4 linked regions of the Homo sapiens genome follow. The protein of the gene in region 1 purifies or fractionates together with the protein of each later gene. This does not show direct contact. Each region holds a gene or a part of one and is shown on either strand. Other genes may lie near its edges.

Region 1 (7,031 bases):
AGCCACCCCCAGGCCTCAGGCAGGGGCAGGCGGGGCCTCCTCAGCCTCCAATCCCTCACCTTCTGGTTCGCATTTGCAGCCTTTTCCGGAGCGCCACCCGCCACCCGCTGCCTCCCCACGCCTGCCAAGATTCCTGGGCCTCTGCGGCTACCCTGCGTGGTGGCGGCAGCAGCGGCAGCAGGAGGGGCTGGGCTGGGCAGGGAGGGGGCCTGGCGGGAGCACAGCCAGGCCACTGCACCCAGGCTGGGCCAAGCAAACACGGCCCCGCCAAGGAGCCAGGCGAAATAGTTCACAAATGAGAAAAAGCTGCTTCCGAGTTGGGCCAGGGTTTTAAAGCCCGGGCTGCAGGGAGCTGAGGTCACATACAAAAGGGGTGGCTCACAGGACTCTCTGGGCCTGGGAGGGGCTTCCGGTGCAGCAGGAGGGAGTGAGGTTAGACAGCAATGAACACAGGCCTCATCTGGCCTGAGATATCAGAAAACCCCATCCCCAAACCTAGCTTACCTTTCAGGTCGGAGGGGCCTGGGAAGGTTCCAGCAGAGGCAGGGCCTGAGGATGAACAAGAGAAACAGTGAGGCTATGGGGCAGTGGCTCAAGCTTGTAATCCCAGCACTTTGGGAGGCTAAGGTGGGAAGACTGCTTGAGCCCAGGAGTTTGAGACCAGCCTGGGCAACATAGGGAGACATTGTCTGTACTAAAAATTTTAAAAAATTAGCTGGGCATGATGGTGCACGCCTATAGTCCCAGCTACTTAGGAGGCTGAGGTGGGTGGTATTGCTTGAGCCCAGGAGTTCAAGACTGCAGTAAGCTATGATTGCACCACTGCACTCCTGAGACAGGGCAAGACTCTGTCTCAAAAAAAAAAAAAAGGAGGAACAGTGAGACGATGACATCAGGAGCCTGGGAAGCCTCCTGCCCTAACCCACAGCCACACCAGTGCCTGCCCCGGGCTTCTTACCAGAACCCCCTGCTGGAAACCCGGCCCCAGTCTCAGTCTCTCTTCTCAGTTCCCTCCTCCCCTGAGGGAAGCAGGGTATGTGCCCCATACTCCACAACTCCATTCATTCAGTGCACACTTAGCAATACCCACGGGGTGCCTGGCCCTGGATTCAAGGAGTTCCTACTGTCCTAGGGCCCAGGCTGAGGATGCCCCTTCTGTGTCCCGGGTTCCCATGCTGGAGAAGTCCCTCCCATATGTCAGCTCTGGTTTGGGGTGGCCCCTACTTTGGGTTAGGATCCCTGCTGGGGAAGCTTCTACTATGTGGAGGACCCAAGCCTGGGTCATGGACCACAGAAATGGTTCAACCCCATACCCTGCCCTGCCTTGCCCTGAAGGGCTGGGGGCATCAGACAAGCGGTCATCACACAATTGGCAAAGATCTCTGGGCTGTGGGAGCATGAAGCAGGGAATACTGCCGACTTAAGCTTCCCCTGAAGGCTTCATGGAGAAAGGGACACTGCAGCTGGGTCCTGAAGGATGAGTCGGAGTCTGAAAGGCAGATGAGGTGATAGAAGGAATTTCAGGTAGTAATATACAGGGAAGGTCCAGAAGTGCTGTGGGATGGGGAGGCTGGGGCAACATGGTGAGGAAATCTGAATGCCATGCTTGCATTTCTCTGGAGAGCAATGGGGAGCCATGGAGGGTTATTTAGTGGGGGAAGTGATGTGGTCAGAGCCCTGGATGGCTAGGTCCCCATTTCTGCCTCAATCAGGTGTGGTGCCAGGATCTAACAAAAGTCGTAGTCCAGGTCACATAGCTGTACGCAGAGGATCCAGAGCTAAAGTCCAGACCCAGACATGACTCCGGGGTAGATGGGGAGGGGATGCCCAGCCAGCCCACCTGGCAGGGAGGCCTGCAGGCCGCGTCACTCTCTCCCCCAGCTGCTTGCTTGCCTCTGCCTGCTCCCATGGAAACTCTGACATCCAGTCCTGTCTGTAGCTGCACAAGCAGCCAGATGCTGGAGCCAGCAGCAACTAGGCCTTCTCTCCAACTCAGCTGAGCCCTGCCTCCATCCTGCCACTCTGAACACTATGACCCCAGAGCTGGGTCATGGGGCCACAGCCTGGATGATGGAGCCCAGGTAGGAGGACCCTCCAGCTCAGCTTAGCCCCAGCTTCTCCGGCCCCAGCCCCGTCCCTGCACCATGAGACTCTGGGAGAAGAAATGACTTAAGCTGGCTCTGGGCTTTGAAGGATGAACATGGATTTAACTGGTTGGTAGTGGAGAGAGGTGATCAGTCCTGGGCCAAGGCAACAGCATGTGTGAGAGTGTAAAAGCCCTGAATATATTCAGGGGATGGAGAGAATCCAAATAAAATAGACAAACACATGAACTAACTAATCATAGCTAATATTCATTGTGTACCCACTGTGTGCCAGGTACCGTTCTGGGTGTTCTCATGAATTATCTCATTTAATCCTCACAACAACCCAGTGACAAAAGTATTTCATCTTCCCTTTTTACAGATGAGAAAACTAAGGGACAGAGAGGATAAGTAACTGGCCCAACATCACACAGCTCATGAAAAGTAGAGCCTGGAGCTGGGCACAGTGGCTCACACCTGTAATCCCAGCACTTTGGGAGGCCAAGGCAGGAGAATCACTTGAGTTCAGGAGTTTGAGTCCAGCCTGGGCAACATAGTGATACCCCCATCTCTTAAAAAAAAAAAAAAAAAGTAGAACCTGAATTTGAACCCTGGCTGCAGGCTCCAAAGCCTAGGCTTTTCACCATACAGATGATTTGAGGAGAGGAGACCTGGCTGGGGCCAGACTGAGAAATGCCTTGAATATCAGGATCAGAGATGCGGATCCTACCTAAAGCTGCTTCCCCATTCCCTTCCCCCATGTTAACCGTTAAGAACAACGGTGTCTGCATCCCAAGTTCATTGTATGCACTGGACATAGCACTAGGCACACTCCTGGCACTATTGGCTCCTGTAACCCTGGAAGGTTGGAACTGCTGTCCCATTTTACTGAGGAGGAGCACTGGGTCCCAGAGAGGTCACATCCATTCTCTAAGGAAACCAGGCTAGGAAGTGAAGGAGGTGGGATCTGAACCCAGCTCTGCCTGGCCCCCAGGTGGCTAAAGCCCTGTATACCTGGGCTCCCTGAAGACCTCAGCCACGGGCCCTGCCCCCTACTCCTGCTCTACCCCACCTGTGCTGCCTCAACCTAGATGGCACCAGGGACAGGCAAGGCTGGGAGCAGAGTGGGCAGCTACTATCAGGTGCCTCAGGAGTCCACTCCAGTGGGCCAAGGCCCCCTCTGTCTTACAAATAGGAAGCTGGGGTGAGTGGGTAAGCCAGGGCGGTGCCTGAGCCGACTTCAATGGGACTCTGTTCTTAACCTTCACCCCCAGCTGCCTTCCCTAATCCCCTCCTGGAGCCCCTCCCCTGGCGACGTCTCCCCTTTGCACAGAGCCTGCCGCTGTTGGCTAAATCCCAGACCAGATGTGGGTGGGACAGTCTGCACCCCCCGCCCCCCACCCCCAACCAGCTTCTGAGAGCTGCAGGGTTCCAGGGAGGCTGGCCAGGGCCTCAGGCCCGCTTCCCCATTCCAACTTTCCAGACTGAGGTGCTGATGGCCATGAGGTGAACAATTGGCTCCTGCCAGAGATGGGGCTCATGGGAAAATTTCCCATTTCTGAGCTCCTACTACGGGCAGGCTCTGGACTAAGAGTCTTGCTTTAAAAATCATGTCGGATTAAGAGGACCTCTCTGGAGCCCAGCTGCATGCATCCTTATCTCAGCCCTAGCTCTTACTAGCATGAGACCTCCACCTGGGCCTCAGCTTCTTCATCAATGAAATGGGAACTCCAGGCATTATTTACTCCCGTAACCCTGGAAGGCTGGAACTGCTGTCCCATTTTACTGAGGAAGAGTGCTAGGTCCCAGAGAGGTCACATCCATTCTCCAAGGTAACCAGGCTAGGAAGTGAAAGGGGTGGAATCTGAATCCAGCTCTGCCCAGCCCATATAAAGCTGCCCAGCTCAGCTTCACAGAGCATTTGTGAGGATTAAACAAGTTAATTTTGTGTAACGGACTCAGAGCAGTGCTTGGCATATAGGAATCCTAAATAAATATGCCCTATTATAAATATAATCACTGGCCTGGCACAGTGGTGAACCCAAGTTCACCATTTGCCCAAGTTCCCCCAGCCAGGGAAGGATGGTCCCAGAGCTTGGCCCCAAGCTAAGCAAGTCCAAAGATGAGGACAACCTTCTGGCTCCCCCAAGCTGAGGCATGGTGTGTACTGGGGTGAAGGTCAGTCCCCCGCACCCCCTCAGTCCCTCCTGCCTGACCCCCAGGGGTTCCAACCCCAATCCAGCCCCTGCTGCCGCTGCAGGAGGGGGCTCTGCATTCCTGGCTAAGCAGCTGGATTTGCTGTGCTCCAGGAACTATGAAAAGAATGCTTGCCATGAGCAGAGCCGTGGTCGCCTGTCAGGGAGCGTGGCCTGGAGTGCCCACGCAGAGCTTGGTGGCAGCCAGCACAGTGGGAAGGAAGGAGGCTAGCCAGAAAGGAGAACTTCCGGGTGGTGGGGGCTGTGGACACTGGACGGGTGTGGAGACCAAAGAGTTGGCCACCTGGGATCTTTCAGGAGATAACTGACCCCTCTACCCCGCAATCTAGGTTTCTCCTCACCACAGGTTGTAAGGAGAGGCAGGCTGGCACTGCTGGCCCAGCTCATGGATGGGGTTACACAGACTCAGAGGAAAACTCTCCTGAGGTCACACAGCAGCCAGTGGCAGAATTGAGACCAGAGGCCAGGACCCCCAGCTCAGGCCCCGCCTCTTCACAGAGGCTTCCCTCCCTTGCAGGACCCACCAGGGACCACCAAGGGTTCCTAGATAATAGAAAATACCATCCCAGCCCTCACGGTTCTGGGCTCTCTCTGGGTCTGACCTTCTCATGCCTGCTATTCCTCTTTCCCCCTCCACAAAAAACCCCTTGTGCTATGAAGATGCCCCACACACTGTAGACGTACGACAATTGAGATTCCATTCCTTTTGGGAGGCTCAGGCGGGCGGATCACTTGAGGTCAGGAGTTCAAGAACAGCCTGACCAACATGGCGAAACCCCGTCTCTACTAAAAATACAAAAATTAGCAGAAGTGATGGTACACATCTGTAATCCCAGCTACTAGGGAGGCTGAAGCAGGAGAATTGCTCAAACCCAGGAGGTGGAGGTTGCAGTGAGCCAAGATTGCACCACTGCACTCCAGCCTGGGTGACAGAGACTCCATCTCAAAAAAATAAATAAAAAGAGGACGGGCACAATGGCTCACGCCTGTAACCCCAGCACTTTGGGAGGCCGAGGCGGGCAGATCACAAGGTCAGGAGTTCGAGAACAGCCTGACCAACGTGGTGAAACCCCATCTCTACTAAAAATATAAAAATTAGCCAGGCTTGGCAGCGTGTGCCTGTAATCCCAGCTACTCAGGAGGCTGAGGCAAGAGAATCACTTGAACCCGGGAGGCAGAGGATGCAGTGAGCCGAGATCATGCCATTGCACCCCAGCCTGGGCGACAGAGCGAGACTCCGTCTCAAAAAAAAAAAAAAAAATAGAGAGAGAGAGAGGAAGGAAGGAAGGAAGGAAGGAAGAAAGGCCAGGCATGGTGGCTAACACCTATAATCCCAGCACTTTGGAAGGCCAAGGTGGGTGGCTCACTTGAAGTCAGGAGTTCAAGACCAGCCTGGCCAACATGGTGAAACCTTGTCTCTACTAAAAATACAAAAATTAGCCGGGCCTGGTGGTGCACACCTGTAATCCCAGCTACTCAGGAGGGTGAGGCAGGAGAATCGCTTGAATCCAGGAGGTGGAGGTTGCAGTGAGCCAAGATCGCGCCACTGCACTCCAGCCTGGGCGACAGAGTGAGACTCCGTCTTAATAAAAAAAAAAAAGACCAGGCATGGCACGGTGGCTCACTCCTATAATCCTAGCACTTTGGGAGGCCAAGGCGGGTAGATCATGAGATCAGGAGTTTGAGACCAGCCTGGCCGATACAGTGAAACTCCATCTCTACTAAAAATACAAAAATTAGCTGGGCATGGTGGTGCTCACCTGTAGTCCCAGCTACTCAGGAGTCTGAAGCAGAAGAATGGCTTGAACCTGGGAGGCGGAGGTTGCAGTGAGCCGAGACCATGCCACTACACTCCAGCCTGGGCGACAGAGCCAGACTCTGTCTCAAAAAAAAAAAAAAAAAAAAAAAAAGTTGCTGTTCTAATTCCTTCTTATTGGCCAGGCACAGTGGCTCACCCCTGTAATCACAGCACTTTGGGAGGCCAAGGCGGGCGGATCACCTGAGGTCAGGTGTGCAAGAGCAGCCTGGCCCCATCTCTACTAAAAATACAAAAAATTAGCCGGGCATGGTGGTGGACGCCTATAATCCCAGGTACTTGGGAGGCTGAGGTAGGAGAATCTTTCAACCTGGGAGGTGGAGGTTGCAGTGAGCCAAGATCGTGCCACTGCACTCCAGCCTGGGTGACAAGAGCCAGACTCTGTCTCAAAAAAAATTAAAAAAAAAAGAAAGAAAGAAATCACAAAACCCAGTAAGGTTCCCTCTGCTCCATGTCCTTTGAGGGAGGGCAGCCTTTGTGAGGAAGGGCACCTGGGCCTGGGATCCTGGCCTCTGTTTCGATTCTGCCTCTGGCTGCCGTGTGACCTCAGGTGAGTTCCCCTCTGAGTCTCCATAACCCCATCCATGAGCTGGGCCAGCAGTGCCACCTGGCTCTCCCCATGAGGCACTAGCCCTCCGCCACCCCCACATGTGACCTCTTCTTCCCCTTCAAAAGCCAGGAATCCCAGCCCATCCAGGCTGCATGGGGATAGTCAGCCTCCAATTCAGAACTTTCCAAGAATCTGAATAGAAGCACGGCCAGGTCCTCCCCAGTCCACTCCCAGGGTCCAACCAGAGAGGCGGAATGGACACTGATCGGAAGATCTAGGTGCTGTGCCCCCATTGCATGTGTGACCTGGAACTACTCCTCACCTCTCTGCAGGCAAAACAACTCTGGAGACCAGTACAGCATTCC
Region 2 (7,031 bases), on another chromosome or scaffold:
GGAAGGTCCTGTGGACCACAGAGAAGAAGATGTCTGGTGGGCAGTTTGCCATATGAGTCTAGAGGATGGAAAAATTAGCTGAATATAAAAAACATAAATTTAGGTGGCAACCAAGCCATGGGTGAGGAAAATAGCTTGCAGGAACTCTGAGGAAAGAATGGAGAAGATGACTAAGGCCAGAGCTCCAGGGAGCACCTACCCAGAAAGAACAGACAATGAATAACCCTGAGAATGAACTAAAGATAGGAGAAACAGAGGGAGCGGGAGTGGTGTGAGAGACACCAAGGGAGGCCAAGAGCCAAGGTTGCAGTGCCAGCTTTGGCTGTTAAGTGGCAGGGACCTTGCTGAGTATCAGTTCAGTGGGTCTTATGACCAAAGGTCATCTGCTGTAGAGGGAGTGCTGGAAAGTGACCATGAAGATAGTTTCAAGCCAATATGAAGAAGCAGCTATAGGGAGATGCAGGATTTAGGGTGAGCTCAAGATGGGAAAGACTATGTGTGTGGTTCCTCAGAGAATAATGAGAAAGCAGATACCATGGAGGGGAAGTGGGGGCTGTGACTCTCCCTGGAAAGCAAGGAAGACTCCCCACAGCCCCATTAACAGCAACCTGGGCATGGCTGACACAAAAGAACTCAGAGAAGGCTCTTTCTGCCTGGAATGAAACCACTACACAGTAGGCTAAATGCTTCAGAGACCAGGGTCTGCTAACCCCGGTGGCTCAGGAACCAATAACGAGGAATAGGAAGTTGGGGACAGTAAACACAAGATGAAGTCCCTAGGTAGGCCAGGGACTGGGGGGCTCCTGGAGCCCCTTTTCCTTCTCCACAGGTCTCCTCTGGCTCTGCAGGCCCAGGAACCTACATTGCTGGGGCAGAGTAACATAGCTGACTGAGCTGGGGCTCTGGAGCTGAACTAAACTAGGTTTGTGTTGGCCTCACTAGGGCGCCAACCAGCTGTGTGACTATAGACAAGTTACCATATCTAAGTCTCAGTCCCCTTATCTCTAAATAAAGATAATATCATCAATTTTAAAGAGCTTGTGGCAAGAATTCAATAAGATGACATATGAAGATGTCTCCTATGCTCCCCAGGATGCTAATGACCAGTAGCTATTATCAACATGTCTCCCAGATGCCAAGAATGCTAAGAATGGCTCCCTGGCACTCAGCATCCTCCCCAGAGCCAACTCGAATGTCTACTCCCTGGAGAGCATTTGGGAGAGTGACAGCTGAGCTGAGTGCTGATAGGCAATCAGACATGGAGTAGCCTAGCTGACATGGGTAAAGGTATTCCTATAGAGGGGTTGAGACAAAAGAGCTGAGTGATAGGGAAAGCTGAGTACAATGGGCAAGGAAGCCAGGAAAATGGAGTCATGCAGGACCCCAAAGACCACACACAGGAGGAGTTTGGGTTTAGCTTTGGAAATTAAGCACAGTAATCAGGAACTCATGTGAACAAATGTGTGCTTAAGACCACATGGAGGATGGTCTTAAGCAGTAAGCTGGAGGTAGGAGACAAGTCAGAATGGTATTTTGATAATCAAATTGAGAAAAAAGTAGCTGTGAGGCTGGAGTCAGGGGATAAGCACGGAAGACATGAGAGAAGGAGGTAGAATCCATAGGCCTTAGGCTTCTGGCTTAGGCAGCCAGAGGATGGAGGTCCTTTTTGCTGAGATAGAAGGATGAGGGGGAAGGTAAAGTGTTTACAAGGAGATGAGGATTTCAGTTCAGGACACATGAAGTTCGAGAAGTCCATGGGACATTCAAGTACAGATGTCCCAAAGGCATCCGTCTACACTGGTTAGAAGCTCGGGAGACAAGCCTTGGCAAGAAACACAGATCTGGATGTCATCCACCTCAGGTGATGGAAATGGCTGTGCTCACCTGGGGAAGGTGCTCAGGGAGAAGATGAGGTAAGGATGGAGTCCTAGGGAGTAATTCCTTTCTGCCCCATAACCCTATTCAGGACACTCATGGGTTTGCTGAGTGAACGTGAGAGGTCAACGCCAGGGTATGGTTCCCTCCTCCAAGCAACCAATCTCAAGGCTACAGAGTGAACAGATCTTGCAGGTGCCCTGAACTGCCCTCTCTCTAATGGAGTCTAAAGGGGGCAGCTGAGGTTCTGGAGCTGGAATAAGCTGGGTCTGCATGAGCCTCACACAGTGAATCGCTGGGGTTACTTGTCTCCAGCAGCCCTCAAAACATCTTCTTATAAACACTAACACTGGGAAGTCAGTGGGAGAGGGGCCACTTGAGAGAAAATGACCAGAGAGGCTAAAAGAGAAGCAGATATCAGTATGCCAGAATTCAAAGGAGGAGAGAACATCACAAAGAATGAGGCAATCTATCTGTCAAATGCTGCTGGGAAGTTAAAGAACATTATGTGTGAACCTTGTTCGCTGGGTTTACCAGCCAAGCGGCCACTGATGACCTTGTAAGAACAGCATCAGTGACAGTGGGGAAAAAGGCCAGATACTGTGAGTTCAGGAGTATATGGGAACCAGGAAAATGGACAGAGTGTAGATTACTCTATCCAGTAGCCTAACCAGGAGGGGAGAAGAGATGAATCAGCAGCAAAGACTCGAAAGACTCTCAGATACCGAGGGAGGCAAGTGTTAAGATGAGCAAGAATAGAGCCTATATGGGAGCTCAAGGGTAGAACCCAGAGAGGTGGAGACAGAATGTATAGGAGCAGAGACTGTAACTAAGAGGACTCAAGACAGGGGGATAGTAAGCCCAGATCAGCCTTAGATGAAAAGACATTGGAGGGTGGGAGACAAGAAGCAGGTCTGAATGCAGATCTGTGTGGTGCTCTGGGGACAGACGTGGAGGGGGTTCCTGAGCAGCAACTTTGGCTTTCTCTGAGATGCAAGAGGAGAGGGCCTTGGCTAATACATGGAGGGAGGTGGCAGGGCAGGGGCTGAGGGAGAAACCTGTCATGGGAGAGGGAGTCCAGCACAAACTGGTGAGCCAAGAGGTGCACCAGAGGTGCACCCGAGGTTAAAGGCCACAAGTTGGTGGTGGCTCCAACCTGTCCCGCCACTAAAGAGACACATGCGGGACAGGCAACGCCTGGAGTGGTGAGTTACCTGGAAGTTCCCCTCTGGAAATTGTGCCTGGGTCCAGCCTGTATGTGTCCTGAAGTCTCATCAGGGCTTTGGCAGCTCCTATCTCGTCCTCATCAGTGGGGAAGAACTGCCGCTGCACAGAGAGGTTGGCGATAAAACCTTCCAAATGAGAGTCAGAACAAGAGATTACCCTTGATCCAGGGGCAGAATTCCACTTGGGACCAGAGAGGCAGCCACAAAGAGGGTCTCTGGCTAGTGAAATTTCCCCGCCCCCTCCCTCAAAGGCTGTTGCCCCCTTCCACCAGGAAGTTGTCCCTGATGACTCCAGTCTATGGGGACTTTTCCTTTCTTACTCCTCACCATACCTACTGCCTGTGTTGCTCTTTGGAACTAAGTAGAAGCAGCCCCCCATATTGGTTAATATTTAGGAGTCCAGAAGTCTTGGCTCCAAATCATTCAGTCAGAGCTGGTGGAGACAGAAGAAACAGAGGATAGAGAGGGTAACTGAGAAGAGCACGGGAGAGGACTCAGGAAGAACTGTCAACCACTCAGTGGAAAATAAATCCCATGGAAAACCTTGATCCAGGGTAATTGGGCTAGTCAGGTAAACACAGACTTCCAGCACACATTTCAAGTTGAGGAGTCCAAGGGACAATGACAGTTAACTAATGAAGCCGAGCTGGCCACTCATTACTGACCACTGGCACTTATCATCCAGAAAGGTGATGATGAAAGTCCTGGAAGTCATCCCCCTCCCCCTAGGTTGACAGCTGAAGGACCACCTAGACAGGCCAAGGACCAAGGTGGGGTTGCACCAACCCAGCAAGGTCCGTCCCCTAAGAGACCACGGTGGGCCTGTTCTCCTCTGTACTCCCACCACTCAGACCTTCAATGAGTTCAGGGCATGGGCTCTCCAGTTATGGTGCTCAAGACCACAGCCTGAAGCGTGGGAGAGCTTTTGACCACAGAAGTACTCCAAGGAGGCTTTTCTGGGACTCCAAGCCCTAGCTGTAAAGTAAGATGTGTACCTCCTACAATCCCAGGTGGGAGCCAAGCCTTCCCAGGCTGACTTAGGGCCTTCAATTCTGCCTCTAAGCTGAGAAGTGAGAGGGGAACAACAAGGCCATTCCTTCCCCAACCTCTTCCCAAGAGTAGCTGTATCCACTGCCACCTATGACTTCAGACCTAAACATCCACTTCAGCCATAACTGGGGACAGGGACCAAGAAGCTGTAACCCTGCCTTCCTTGTCTTCATAGCTACATGGTCAGGGACTCTAAAGAGTTTAGAATCTGGTGGGGTGGGAGTAGGGGAACATGCTGCCAGGAAAAGCCACACTGTCAGCATGCCCTGCTCGTTTCAGGGGCAAGAACTCAAAGTCAGAGATGAAAACAACCAATTATTCTCTGGGCCTGCCCTATCTCCTTCCAGGTAATCATAAGGTTTTCCAAAGGAACCAGATGATGGTGGGAGTGTAGGGTGTGGAGAACAAGATTGGAGAGAGGAGGTCATCTGGGTAGGCTTAGTCTCCTGCCGTGCAGGCAGAACAGCCTGTCCCGAGCTGCAGGCCCAGGCGGAGAGGCGGGAGTCTGGGAAAGGCAGCCGTGGTTTCTGGAGGCAGTGAGCTCACTGGGCACAGCTCCAGCCTGGCTGAGCTCACCAATCCCTCTCCAGAGGCCACCCTGCCCCCAGGCCCAACCCAGTCTGGCCACATGGGCTAAAATGTCTCAGCCAGAGAGACAGCTAGTCTGAAGTTAATCAGCACTCACAGCTCAGGGAAAAGAGGCAGTGAAGAGCTGGGTACAATGGCACTGTGCCTATAGTCCCAGCTACTCAGGAGGCTGAGGCAGGAGGATCACGTGAGGCCAGGAGTCCAAGGTTGCAGTGTGCTACAATCGCACCTGTGAATAGCCACTGCACTCCAGTCTAGGCTAATATAGTGAGACCCTGTCCCTTTAAAAAAAAAAAAAAAAAAAAAAAAAAAGGCAGCGGGCATGGTGGCTCACACCTGTAATCCCAGCACTTTGGGAGGTGGAGATGGGTGGATCACGAGGTCAAGAGATCAAGAACATCCTAGCCAACATGGTGAAACCCTGTCTCTACTAAAAATACCAAAAAAAAATTAGCTGGGCATGGTGGCATGTGCCTATAGTCCCAGCTAGTCAGGAGGCTGAGGCAGAAGAATTGCTTGAACCCGGAGGCAGAGGTTGCAGTGAGCCGAGATCCCGCCACTACACTCCAGCCTGGTGACAGAGTGAGACTCAGTCTCAAAAAAAAAAAAAAAAAAAAAAAAAGTCAGTGAGTCCAGGGGACTAAACCCAGGGCTAGGAGTTAGGAGAGCCCACCTCCAGGCCCACCGTACCATCTCTTCTTATTGACAGAAAAGTATTAGGGCATAAAAAGTATTATCACAATAAAAGCACCAAGTATAGTTTAAAGCTTTTAAAAAGTTCACACTCTCATCGGTAATATCACTTCTAGGAACTTACCCTAAAAAAGTAATCAGAAGTATACACCAAGAAATATGTAAAAAGGTGCTGATAATTCAGAAAAAATCCCATATCCAATGACTTGACCCATTTGACAGTATTATCAGTATGACAGATTATCACCATCTGACAGGTAATCACCATCCAGCCATTAAAATCATGTTGCAGAAGAACATTGAATGGCATATAAAGAAGCTGAGAAATTCACAGAATTTTTTCTTCTGTCACAAATCTACCAACAGATATGCTTTGTTTGTAAAACATATGAATAGGAATGAATTTAGATCAGACCTATGCTCCCCAACTTGCCCTGGCCCCACCATCCAGCCCACTTGACACTTGTAAATTCATTGTCCCTCCAAGCAACTGAGTTTGCATGCCCTGGTATGTATGTATAGTTCCATTTTTTAAATGTATATGCATAGGTAGAAAAACTACAATTTTAATAATGCTCACCACTGGGCAACTGGATTAAGAATTATAATTCTCTTGTTTTTGTGTTTTCCGACTTTTCTATAAACATGTATCACTAAAGTATAATTGGAAAAATGTCATTAGCAAAAAATAAGAAAAGACAGACACTAAAAAAAAGACGCTAAAAAAAGAACTGAACATCATTACATGTTAAAAACCAAGGCCAGCCAACTTCCAGGTCCCCACAGAGAAGGGAGAGAGCCATGAGACCAGCAGGGTCCTGTTTCCACAATGTACTTGCCCACCAACACCCAGACCCAAGACAGGCTCAGACACAACAACCCAGGCATGAGCACACAAACATATGGGCTCACTCAAGCACCTGCTCACCGTCCCTCACCTGCAGCTGAGTCCTGCAGGACAAGGTCCTCCAGCGCAGGCCAGTCTGTGTTTAGCCGCTTCACCAGTTTGTAGGCATTCACAGGGTGAGCCAGGTAGCCCTCAGCATCAGCAGCTGACTTGCTAGTCAAGGCTTCCATTTTGTTGGCCCAGCTGTGGAACCAGAGGAAAAGGAAGACTAATGCGTCCACCCACATAGGTCTTGACCTGTGACAATTTTCCTAGTGAGAATTCCCTGGTGCCAGGTTCTGGGGCCCTTTTCATCAAGAGGCAATGAAAAATGAATACAGTAACTCCCCACAGATACTTCTAGCCCCTTAATCTAGATAACAGCTGGGACCCCCAATGTAAGGGAAAAGGTCTTAAATAGAAAATAAACAGTGACTCCTTAGCCCATGTACTTAGCTCCTCTCAAGCACTGGCATGAAGTAACCAGGCCAGCCCCACATCACCCTCTCAAAGGTTTCCTCTTATAGGCACCCTGGATGGCTTCCTTGTTCCTTGAGGGGCAGAAGGGAAGGAAGGCCAACTAAGGATGGTTGGGGACTTAGGACACCTCTTAATCTTGGAAAGCTTGGCTTCCTCCACAAGGATGTACTCTTTCAGAGACTGCACCAGCTCTTTCTCTGCATAAATCAGGTCAGTCATGTGCCCTGCAAGGG
Region 3 (7,586 bases), about 150 Mb from region 1:
GTTCTTAGAAGAACCACGAGCTCTTATTATTATGTGTGGAATTTATAAATAAATGTAATTTTGAGTAAGTCAATCACTTTAAACACATTTCTTCTTCTGGGAAATAGAGATAATTTTATTTCTTCACAGAATGGCAGTAAGAATCAAATGAGTTAACAGTGCATGGAAGTTATTTCCAAAGGTTCTTTACAGCTCCTTTGTGAGCTGAAAAGAACTATTTAGAAACTGGGATTTGTATTATTGTTACCTAAAGAATTACACAATGTTTTAAAGACAGAACCAAAATTTTTCAAAGAAGAGTCTTCAATGACTGACGCAAGCATGGCCTTGCACTTCTTGCTTAACCTGCCAATGCTGGACATAAAAGACAACAGATTTCAAAGGTCTATGCAGAACTGGAATTCTCTCATCTAAGTAAGACACCAGTGTCCATACCATCTGGAACTTACAGGGAACTTAGGATGTACATTGATGCTGGTTGATCCTAATTATATTGCAAAATCTATGGAATTCAAGAGCCATAAAGAATTTTTGAAATCATTTATTCCAACTCCCTCGTTTTATTGATGAGGCAACTGATGCCTATGGATCCCAAGCAACCAGCCCCAAATCACATATCAAACTAGTAATAAACAACTCAAGTCTCCTAATTTGTAGATTATAGGCTTATGTAAATTTTGTTTATATCATGTTTCCTGCCTTTTTAGGGTGGCCTTGGGTTCAAATTCCAGTTTCACCATTTATTAATTCTGTCACTTTAAGTGACTTACTGAACTGATGCAAGTCTGTCTCTTTCTTTGCAAAATAAACATCATAGCATCCTCTTAAAAGTTTACTGTATGATAAAAAGAGGTAATGTCTCTAAATCAGGTAGCAAAGCATGTGCCTGACACCTGCTTCACCACTCACCAACTTCTTATGGTAAATACTGTAACGTTTTAAAAAACTAAATCATGCATAAAGATCAAAACCATATTTTAAAATATCTCTTAAAAAAAACACAACAACTAAGGTAACTGATATGTGTGAATTTCTTTTGGTACCGAAGTGGTTAAAAAAAAATCCTTCCTTCTGGTTTAAAGCCTGGCTGTCCCAGTGCTCTCTTTCCACATAATATGCCCTTCTCCGCCAGGCGGTCACGTATGGCAGGGTATATAGTAAAGCAGTGTACAGCACAGAGCTGTACTATATCACATGTTTGCTTTCGCACCTTTGCACCTCTCCCACCAGGTACTCTGAGGCTGCCAATTCTAGCTGCTGCTTTTACTCCTCTTCCTCTCTTTGCCCAACCGCTGCTTTAAGGATGTGTCTCGCCTGAGAACAGCTCCCTTTATCAACACAAGACAGAAATTGCTCCAGAGTGACCTGGGCTCTGTCTTCCTCAGGGGGCCAGAGTCTTCTTGTCCGAGTACCTACCTGACAGCACATCTCCCCTGGCCAGCATCCACCTCCTTGTCCTCCACAACCCACTCAGCGGCTAACCTGGCCACCAACTAACTTCTCGCCCTCGGATCCTCGCGTTTATAAAAGGTGCGAGACGACCAAGTTCTACAAGGTGGGGCGGGCAGGCACCCGCACTTATCCCCTGGCCCTCCCCGCAGCAGACACAGGGACCAGGTCCAAGCTTCTTTCCTCCGGGGACAAAACTTGGCTGTTTATCTTTCCCAGGGCATCTTCGTCTCTCCCCGGGACGTGGAACCCCGATGCACCGGCAGGGACAGCCCGGAGCGCTCGCAGGAGACCAGGCCCACGGTGGTGCCATGGTTGGGCACACTCCGCGGGCTCCGCCCAATCTCCACCCCTAGGTCCAGGTCCCCCTAGGAGAGCTAGGAGCACATTTCCAGCCTGGAGCAGGAGCCCGGCACCGGAAAGTCAGAGCAGCGCACTGCGGCGCCCCAGCCACTGCGGAGCCCCTGGCCAACCGCAGTTACGTTCCATCTGTCGTATCTACATGGGAATACGGCGACAGGCACCCTATCCCCTCACGTCAGGGCTAGCAGTATGAGGTGGGGAAAGAGGAAACCTCGAGAGTTAAAAGCGAGGGAACTGAAAGTCCCCTTGAGGGGTGTCCCCCATGCCCCTTGTGGGACAAAGCCCCAATTCGCAGGCTACCCTCCAGAGCTCCAGCGGTCCGGTTCTCCCCATCAGCACCCTCTGCGCACACTGACCCGCGCGTCCCTCCGCAGCCTGACCGCCCGATCCGCCAGCCACCGGCGCGGGCAGCGAGGGGGTGTGTGCGCCAGATTTTCCGCGTGCCCCCCCGCCCCTCCAGCGGCTCCCTCGCCCTGCAGCTGCTGCTCCGGGCGCTGTCCGCGCTGGGCAGGCCGCCCCCGCGTCCCGCCGCGGCGGCCCGGGGCCCGTGCGCGCTCACCAGATGGCCATCCTGCTCTTGGGGTAGTCCAGCCGCTCCAGGCAGCCGAGGAAGTGCGGCAGCGTGTGCGCCGCGTTGCGGGCGAGGACCGCCACGAGCACCGTGGGGCTCTGCAGGGGCGACTCCGGGAAAACCACCGGCTCCTCTCCGTCGTCCTCCGAGTCCCGCTCGGCGACGAAGCGCGCTCGGCAGCCTTCGCGGAGCAGGGCTGAGGAGAGGAGCAGTAGCGACCAGGCGAGGGTGGCAGCAGGGCGCGCAGCCATGTTCCGGGCCGAGGCGGGCGGCGGGGAAGTCCTGGCGCGAGCGCCCGGCTGGGCTGCCTGAGGGCGGCGGCGGCTGCCGGGGAGCAAGGGGCTGCGAGGGGCGGCCGGGGGATGCGGCTTGCCGCGGCCGGCCGGCTCACACACTGGCCTCGGCGGCTGCGGTTCCCAGGACCCTCCCGCCGCCGCTGCACCGCCCAGGCCCCAGTGCGGGTGCGCAGCGTACCTGCAGCCGCTGGCGCTCCCCTGCGCCTCGGGCTCGCAGACAGTAGTGGCCGAGGGGCTGTGTGCCCTGAGTCCTGAGGAAAGTTCCTCTAGTCCAGGTTCCGCTCGTACAGCTGAGGTCTGTGGCCTTCCCTAGAGCCGCGAGTTGTGGCCCTGTCTGCCAATGAGCCTGTGAGTGTGTGTGTGTGTGTGTGTGTGTGTGTGTGTGTGTGTACATAACGGTACAACCCCAAGAAAATTTATTCTGCTTTTGCAAACCGCAGACTGAAGCCCTTCACAGTGATGCAATGTATCCAGTTTTCATAATGCACCTATTGACTGAGTAGAGTTCTAAAATGAAAAGTCTCCCCAACTATTCACGATTATGACAAACACTTGTTTAACCACCGCAAAGGCAGCATGTCGCATTTTCTTATATACTCAACTTCTGAAATTCATTCTTGACTGAGTAGACACCTAATAACACAAAGTTTGAAGACTTGGAGAATTTTGGAGCCAGATCAGACCCCGCAAAATAAAAGAAAGCCCTTGGGAGACACTGTCCTGAAGCCTCACTCTACTGTGAACCCAGTAAGCCTCCTCACAGGAGGGCTGTGAAAGAATAAATTCACTTAGCTGGTTTTCTTTTTCCGTAATAAGCCAATATGATAGAGTAACAAAGAGGGAAAATTCGCGCATGTTGGAGAGCAGAGAAGAGATAAGGAAGAAAAGAAGGGGTGAAGGAAGAACACAATTAGCACATAAAATGAAACTGCTGGCATACACTGCTAAAGGAGATTTACTTTTTTTTTTTTTTTTTTTTTGAGACAGGGCCTCACTCTGTTGCCGGGGCTGGAGTGCAGAGGCACGATCACAATTCACTGCAGCCTCGACCTCCTGGGCTCAAGCAATCCTCCCACCTCAGCCTCCCGAGTAGCTGGGACCACAGGTGTCCATCACCACGCCTAGCTAATTTTTTTTTTTTTTTTTTTTTTTGTAGAGACGGGTTTTCACCATTTTGCCCAGGCTGGTCTGGAACTCCTGGGCTCAAGTGATCTGCCCAACTCGGCCTCCCAAAGTGTTACGATTACAGGCATCAGCCACCATGCTCGGCTGGATATTTAGTTTTGAAGATATATTGTGTAGCCTTTGATAGATAAGTATGGAGGGTGTTTTGGTGCCAGTGCACATTCATGATCTCCAATCCCAACTCACCCTCAGGTCTGTCCCATAGTCTTTTTATTAGTTGTTATCAATCCTTCTCAGCAACTATTAGAAGTCTTCCCTACTGTCTTTTGAAGTATATCACCTCCTTCATCCAGCTCCCCCAACACCACTGTCTCCAACTAGCATCCCTACCAAGACCTTTCTTACTTGCAGGTGCCTCCTCACGACAGGGTCTTTGATCACAGACTAGAAAGGGAGAGGTCTCCCTTTCTAGCCCATGATTTTTCTCTATCATTCCACTCTCTACTGAATCTTCAACTGATCTCTATCAACTCCTTTCTCTCAAGCTAAATACTTGGTCAGTCTTCTCTTATCCGTTAAAAAAAAAAGAAAGAAAAGCTTTAAAAAAAAGTCCTGTGTCTTCTTCTAGTCATCCCTTTGCTTGACCAAGCTCCTTGGAAGAGAGATCTATACTTGTATTCTCCACTTCTTCATCTCCCATCTTTCCCACCACAGTGCAGTAAGGCGTCAGCCCTCCCCACTGTTCTGCAAAACCAACAGATGGCCTCAGCATTGGCAGATTCAGTAAACTCTTCCGTTCTCACCTTCCTGGACTTCGATTACATAATCTCCCATCCTAGATCTCCTCTGATACTACTTGTCTCTGAGCCAAGCCCCTTCACTGTGTGCCTCCCTATAGTGTGCTAGTCTTCCCACTCCATATGGTCTCCTGTGGTTATATCCTCAAAATCTATGTCTTCTGCTCTAATCTCTTCTCTAATCTTCATATTTTTTTATCGAATGGCCTACAGACATTTCCTTCCCCTCCATCCATTTTCAGGAATTGTTCCCACTTTCAAGGGGCTCACAGTCTTGTAGGGAAGACTGAGAGTTAAACATCTGTTAGAAGTACTGTAACAGATGTACCAGCTACAGTGAAGGGATAGAGGAAGATGTGGTCATTTCCACAAGGGAGGTAGTGATGGGACTGTTAGAAAGGTCCAGACAATCTCCATGTTGTTCTGTCTTTCTTGTTTCCCTTTCTTGAACTATGTCCCACTCATCTTTCAATACTAAAATCCGCACTCCTTAGCCAAACTTGGTTTGATAGTTATCATTTGTTCACTTTACTGCAAACAGAGGGAGTTTAAAGCTAGGCAACCACATTTCTGTCTTATTTTCCTTCTGTTACTGATATGGTCTGCCTATGTCCTCACCCAAATCTCACATCGAATTATAGCTCCCATAATCCCCACGTGTCGTGGGACGTAATTGAATCATGGGGGCAGGTTTTTCCCATGCTAGTCTCGTGATAGTGAATAAGCCTCACAAGATCTGATGGTTTTATAAAGGGCAGTTCCCCTGCACATGCTCCCTTGCCTGCCGCCATGTAAGGTGTGTCTTTGCTCCTCCTTTGCCTTCTGCCATGATTGTGAGGCCTCCCCAGCTATGTGGAACTGTGAGTCCACTAAACTTCTTTTTCTTTATAAATTACCCAATCTCAGCTATGTCTTTATTCACAGCGTGAGGACAGACTAATACAGTTACCTAAAGTCAACAGCTTATCTGAGTCTATTTTTTCAAAGAAAGGTGAAGCATCTAAACCTGTATGGTCTCTAATGACATTATAATGAAATCGGCTCCATGGAGTTCTCTTAAAATAACTACAACCTGCTCTGCTCTGTAGATGAAATCAAGGGTTTCCCAGCCACATAACCTACAAAACACCTATTTAAAACTTTTAATTGAGTGCTCATTTAGTGACTGAGAATATTAAGGTAATAACAGGGTATGCAACAGTAGAAGATCATTGTAAATATGGTTGGGAGGCAGTGGAGGGGAAGCCTGGGAAAAATTAAGTCCCCATCTTACTAACAGATTTGTTTCATAAGTTCTTCAGAAATCAGTAATGTGAATTTGGATGTTTCCCCCCCGCATAGGATTGATGTTATAAGACAGTTAATTTGAAAAAAAAAACTAATTTAAAAATAAAAGCCAATTATATTTTAAAATATTCATTGCTTATAATGCTCTTTCCATGGAAAATCGGCTGAATGGAAAGTCAGGGTTGTACACACATATCTCTTTGTCTCCACTGCCAGTAGACTGTTCCAATTGATTCTACATAAAGTTAGAAGTAAGCACTTTCTCTCATATCCCCTCCCCATACTGTTCCAGCACAGGGGACTTCCATCTGGGACAACAAAACCTCTTGGACTGTCACCCTTAGTGCAATGTGGTGGGGACAGGGCCTATGAGGTGGCCAGAGGACTTCTTGCAGGAAAGCTTCTCAAGATGTCTGTGGCTCCAGCAGCCCAGAAGAGGAGGAAATAAATGCCTCTGGGGCAGCTGTGATAGGCTTGAAAGAGCAACTGACACTTGGAGCTGAATTTTCATTTCACTGGTGTCACTTATTCTCTTTGTGACCTTGGAAACTTGACCTCTTTGAACATCAATTCCTTCCTAGGTAAAAAAGTTTTAAATGCTTGCCTCATTTTTTCATTCAACAAACATTTATGAAATTGCTAAATGCCAATCATTTGAGTGTTGAATATTTGAATGCTTCTCCCTTGGAAAAACAGGGAGAAAGTGGCCAGCCCCTCGTAAGTCCTGCTGGGCCATAGTTGGCAGAAAGAGTCTCTTGGCTGAATTATCCAGGCTTCTTTCTTCTGTACTGAAATATCTTTCTTTCACTACCTGGTTTGTTTTACTCGCTTTTCTGATCCATCCTAAAATCCTACAATGTAAAATGTACTTGAATTGACAATTCTGCCAATTTCAACATGAAAATCCTTGAGAGAGGAGCATTAGATGATATCTTTTTAATTCAATCAGATTTTTAAATCTTATCACCTAAACTGAAATGGCCTATAAGAAGTTTTGATAAAGGGAACTGAATGGGATCCTAATTTGAAGCATGGGTCTCTTTGGTGACAAAGCAAGTTTTATGGATTTCTGATACGTAGGCCCGAGGACTCTGGGTCCTAGGAAGGGAATTAATATTAAGGGAGAAAAAGAGCAGTGACTGAGGTGGGAAAGGCTAAAATTAAACTACGTCAGTGTCAAAGTTTTGTCTATGCTCTGGCTGCATCCAAGAGCTATAGAATAGTCACTACGGAGGAATGTTTTCCAATTCAAAACAAGTTTATACAAATGTAAACTACACTTCTACGTCTCATTTAAGAATAGATGCATCCCTTAAATTATATTAACTCATTCCTTCAAACACTTGCTCAATGCCTACTCTGTGCCAAGATATAGTTGCTGGAAATGCATGAATAAATAAGATGTGTCATATAAATGCACAAATGCTATAAGTCATTTTATGTCTTATGATGGAAAAAGGAGCATAAGTAAGGAAGTGGGGAAGTGGAGATAGCTAGGAAATGTTTAATTAAAGAGATGTCTTTGAATTGAGCATTGAAAAATAAGTAGCATGCATGGACAGGAAGAATTAATATTTTTAAAATGGCCATACTACCCAAAGCAATTTACAGATTCAATGCTATTCCTAAACTACCATTGAGATTTTTCACAGAACTAGAAAAAAACTATTTTAAAATTCATATGGAACAAAAAAGAGG
Region 4 (4,186 bases), 6.6 Mb from region 1:
CTCAAGCACAGTAAAAGCTCTGGACCTAGTACCAGGGATGTAGCCAGAGGAGCTGAATCTCCATTTCCAGTGTTTCCTAGAGTGTGTCTTCCTGCACAGGGAGGCCGAGATACAGGACACTGAGGCCAGACGGCAGAGCAGGAAGCATGTGGCTGACATAGGGGTGACGTGCCAGAGCACTGCTGACCGCCGCTCCCTGCCAGAAGAGGATTAACAATAATCCCAACCATTCACCCAGAGCTTTACCGTTTACAAAAGTGTTGTCACATCCGATATTGCATCTGGGCCATACAGCTGCCCCAGAAGGTGAGCAGAGGGAGGACTATGATCCCCATTATACAGATGACAACCCCGAGGTGCTGAAGGTTAAGTGTCTGGCCTGTGGCTGCACAGCAAGTGGTTGAGCCAGGTGCCAAGCCAGGACTTCTCGTCCCACACCTGCCACTGGGTCCTGCCTAGAGCAATTTTTATCAAGTGAGACCTCTGGGACAGAATGGGCAAATTTCCATTGTCTGAACAAACCAAGTAAAAAAAACCATGAATCATTTATTCTTTGGTTGTCTACACAGACACTTAAGTACTGTATCGCTGTCATGCAGCGGCCTGTGGAGGCCCCTGGGGGTGGCTGGGCCTGTGTCCTGAGCCCTCAGCCAGATCCAGGGGGTGCGGTGTCTGGTCATGTCCACTCCAAGAGCAGTAGCACCATGTAGAAGGCTGTGAGCAGGGTCCCCTCGGCTGAGTGGCAGATGTAGGCTCACTGCTCTGCAGCCCCGAGGGGCTGGCCAGCTCAGAGTGCAGAAGAGTTCCTCTCCATGGGTCTAGTCACCCATCCGTCTGACCTGGACGCTGTCATAGCTCATCCTTGGGCTTCGATTCACTGCCTGAGAGAGACTCTTGTGCAGGTTCGGGGGGGCCCTGCTGGGCATCCAGGGGCTGCTCCTGGGAGAGGTCCATCTCTTCTGGGCTGAAGAGCATCTTCACCAGGTCATCTGCCTGCACCCTGTCCTGCAAGGACAAACCCCTGCCCATTCAGAGAGGCCTCCGCTCCAGACACTCGCTATCTCTCAGCTGCTACTTCCCAGGGGACAAGGAAGGTTCCTTAATGGCCCCAGGCTCATCTCCTTCCCAGCAGGTCCTACTCTCTGGAAAAGGACAGCTGAAGTGGGGCCCAAGGAGGGAACCAAGAACTCAGCATCGCTCCCTGTCTTGACCTCTTTCCCCACCTGGATCCCGTTCACAGCAGGCCCAGGGAGGACAAGGCAATGTGACCATAATGACAGGGCGTTGGAGCTGGTGTCCCAAGTGCTCCTTTCGTGTCTCAGCCACTGGCAATGGGATTTGGGGAAGAGAAAGGCAAACCAAGGGCGCTCTGGGAACGGGTCACCACAGCACCAGCTGCTCTCACCCGCTCGAGCTGCTCTCACCCGCTCGCTGTGTCGAGGGTCCAGGGTGAACCACAGGGCGATGGCACAGCGCTGCCCCCTGGTGACAGCCTTCACTCCATGTGGGTTTTCAGTGCCTGAAGAGAATCCCACGGCTCTTCCACACTGAGGCTGCACCTCTGCCTAAGGGGGACAGAAAGGGAGGGGGGTTGCACAGGACAAAGACTGTAATCCACTCTCAGAAGAGACATGGGCTCATTAGGGCTCACGACCGAGGGCAGCTCTTCAGTATGGCTTCCCTAAGACCAGAACTAAAGAGAAAGGGTGACTGGTTAGAGGAGTGATGGACACGTCTCAAAGCCCCTCTGGATGGGGGAAGGGTACCGCCCACTGGGAAGCCCAGTTGGTTATTTTTGTCCACTGCACTTTGGGAACATCAGCTGTAGAAAACAGACTTTTTATCTCCCAGGGACAAGGACAAGGGAGCACTCACCGTCACGGTCTTGGCATCCAGTTCAGTGAAATAAAAGTTTCCGCCATCGAAGTCCCCATTTAGGTAAAGGATGGCGCTGGGAAAGGCAGAGACATCTCATCATGGCCCTTCCCTGCCTCCCTTTCCCCTGAGCCTTCACCTCCAGGTGCTCTCAACCAGCAGCAGGAGGGTGGCTTTGTGTGGGAGGGAAACCTTTAAGAACCTATACTGATGCCGTACAAACTCCACCTTTCCACTCTCCACCCTCGCCTTAGAGTCCCCTGTGCCCACTCACACTACCGTTCTTGTCACACCACGATATGATTCCCTCTTTGCCTATCTTCTTATCCAGCGGGTTTGGGGATAAAGGATTGGACTCTGGGAACAGCTAGCCCCAACCAGTGTGTGTGTGCTAGGGTGGGGTAGTAGAGTGCAGGGCACTGTGGGGCCTCTGAGGAGGGCACAGACCTCCTCACCCTGCACCTGCCCCGCACTCACCTGTAGTCGCGGAAGGTGTAGGCTGGGGGCTCTTTGACACACACGAGGGTCTCGGCATTCAGGATGCAGTTGTCCACGTGGACTGGATGACTATCATCCTTCCTCTCTGCCTGGACCTCTGGGGCCAATGTCACACATGTTAGCAAGGGAGCACCTCGGGAGACGGCATAGCTCTCTTCTTGGCAGGGGAGGTGCTTCCCAAAATGTGTTTGAGTCTACGGAATGCCCAATGAACTAGGGGGGTGTCTTTGGCTAAGCCACAAGCCTAGGGGTCAGGACAAGTCTGCAGGCTTCCTAGGACAGTTCTTGGCAGAAGTGAGCAGGGTGTGGCAAGCAGGAATGAAGGGCTCCAACCAAGGGCAGATCCTGGGCAGAATGGCACAACCCTGGTTTGTAGCTGGACTTTACAAAATACAAAGGCCCAGGGAAGTGAGAATGAGGGATCAGGAGGTGGGACGGACGCAGGGCAGAGTGGGTCAGTCCTCCATCAGGACTGCAGGAGATGGGGCTGAGTGGCAGGAAGTGGGGCAGAGAAGAGCTGGCTAGCAAAGGGAAAGCATGAACTTCAGTGGGGCTCTGGGGTGGGGTGGGTGGAGAAACCATGCAGGGAGAAGGTCACGAAAGGGAACAGACCGGGCTCACTGTCAAATGCCAGGCAGACCACGTCTTTCCCCAACGCAAACCTTTGGCATGCTCTATGTAGGCACCGTCACGTCGTGGTGGGTGCCTCCTTCTCCATTCCCACTTGTCCAGCCAGTCACCAGGTCCTGTCCATCCACCTCCTGCACCTTCCCGGGGCCTCACTTCTCCCTCCTCCCACTGCCACTTCCTGAGTTTAGGGCTTTGCCCTTGTCCACAGAGGTCATTGCTGACCAGCTTCCCTTTTTGGTTTGAAATCTCTCCACACACACAGCAGCAAAATGAATCCTTTAAAAGTCAAGGCCTCACCACGTCCTTCACTGCTTGATGAGGCCTCCCTGGCCTCCTGGCACCTGTGCTTGTGCTCTCCCACCGGGGGCTTGTGACACACCCAGTTGTGTGTCTGACTGGTCCCTTTGGGTGTGCCCAGATTGTGACAGAATTCCAAACATTCTGAGGTAGAGGAAAGCCCTCTGATCTGTGCCACGTACCAATGGCCATCACTGCCAGGGGCCTGCTGGAGGCTCCAGTATGACAGAGCCGGCTCTGGGCCACATAGGATCCTTGCAGCACTAGCTGAACCTCTCCCCTTCTTGGACATGCAAAAGGGAATGTGGGTGGGCGAGGGAATGAGGAATAACCTCCAGGCCACTCTCACTTGTAAATCACGAAGCTCTCTCACAAATTTGGTATTTAACAATTAGTAAAAGAGAATCTGCCACATAGCTATGGTTGAGCTAAAGGATAAAAATTCCCTTGAATGTAGCTCTCCAGGATTTGGCACCTTTCTTAGTTCCCCTGACTACCAGGCTGCACAATGCCTCCACTCCTGTGCAAACACCATCCCACCACCCGGAGTACTCCGTAATCGTATTCATCCTGCAAAACTGCCATTGCTTCCTCTGGGAAGCCTTCTTTTTGTTGTTGTTGTTGTTGTTATTATTTTTGCTTTTAACAAGCCCTTCTGTTGAGGGCTGTCTTTCAACAGATGGCAGCGAGGGAGCTGCTCAGCTATGTATGAAACCCTAACCCGGAGGCAGGTCCTCTATGAATGGTTTAGCACCAGCTTCCCCATTAAAGTGCGTTGTGTGACAAGTGACGGGTGGCCCCCTTTCTGGCTGCACCCCATTTCCCTCTGGGAAGCCTTCTTGATCCCCAGGTAGGTTGACTATAACTTCCTCCATGCTACTGTGGC

The links.
Region 2: the proteins of COL8A2 (region 1) and P4HA2 purify together in Homo sapiens (affinity purification with mass spectrometry; 3 studies listed by BioGRID and IntAct, with this or other methods). This does not show direct contact.
Region 3: the proteins of COL8A2 (region 1) and COLGALT2 purify together in Homo sapiens (affinity purification with mass spectrometry; 3 studies listed by BioGRID and IntAct, with this or other methods). This does not show direct contact.
Region 4: the proteins of COL8A2 (region 1) and P3H1 purify together in Homo sapiens (affinity purification with mass spectrometry; 2 studies listed by BioGRID and IntAct, with this or other methods). This does not show direct contact.

The regions. Positions count from the first base shown.
Region 1 is NC_000001.11:36,115,204-36,122,234, forward strand, and holds part of COL8A2 (collagen alpha-2(VIII) chain isoform 1 precursor), read right to left. Parts: intron 550-7,031; 5' UTR 505-549; intron 1-504. UniProt on the Homo sapiens protein: Macromolecular component of the subendothelium. Major component of the Descemet's membrane (basement membrane) of corneal endothelial cells. Also a component of the endothelia of blood vessels.
Region 2 is NC_000005.10:132,210,827-132,217,857, forward strand, and holds part of P4HA2 (prolyl 4-hydroxylase subunit alpha-2 isoform 2 precursor), read right to left. Parts: exon of another isoform or gene 7,023-7,031; coding exon 6,926-7,022; intron 6,523-6,925; coding exon 6,371-6,522; intron 3,228-6,370; coding exon 3,090-3,227; intron 1-3,089. UniProt on the Homo sapiens protein: Catalyzes the post-translational formation of 4-hydroxyproline in -Xaa-Pro-Gly- sequences in collagens and other proteins.
Region 3 is NC_000001.11:184,034,724-184,042,309, forward strand, and holds the start of COLGALT2 (procollagen galactosyltransferase 2), read right to left. Parts: upstream 3,006-7,586; 5' UTR 2,635-3,005; coding exon 2,372-2,634; intron 1-2,371. UniProt on the Homo sapiens protein: Beta-galactosyltransferase that transfers beta-galactose to hydroxylysine residues of collagen.
Region 4 is NC_000001.11:42,745,848-42,750,033, forward strand, and holds the end of P3H1 (prolyl 3-hydroxylase 1 isoform 1 precursor), read right to left. Parts: intron 2,471-4,186; coding exon 2,353-2,470; intron 1,952-2,352; coding exon 1,876-1,951; intron 1,566-1,875; coding exon 1,425-1,565; coding exon of another isoform or gene 1,065-1,424; exon of another isoform or gene 1,006-1,064; coding exon 850-1,005; 3' UTR 527-849; downstream 1-526. UniProt on the Homo sapiens protein: Basement membrane-associated chondroitin sulfate proteoglycan (CSPG). Has prolyl 3-hydroxylase activity catalyzing the post-translational formation of 3-hydroxyproline in -Xaa-Pro-Gly- sequences in collagens, especially types IV and V.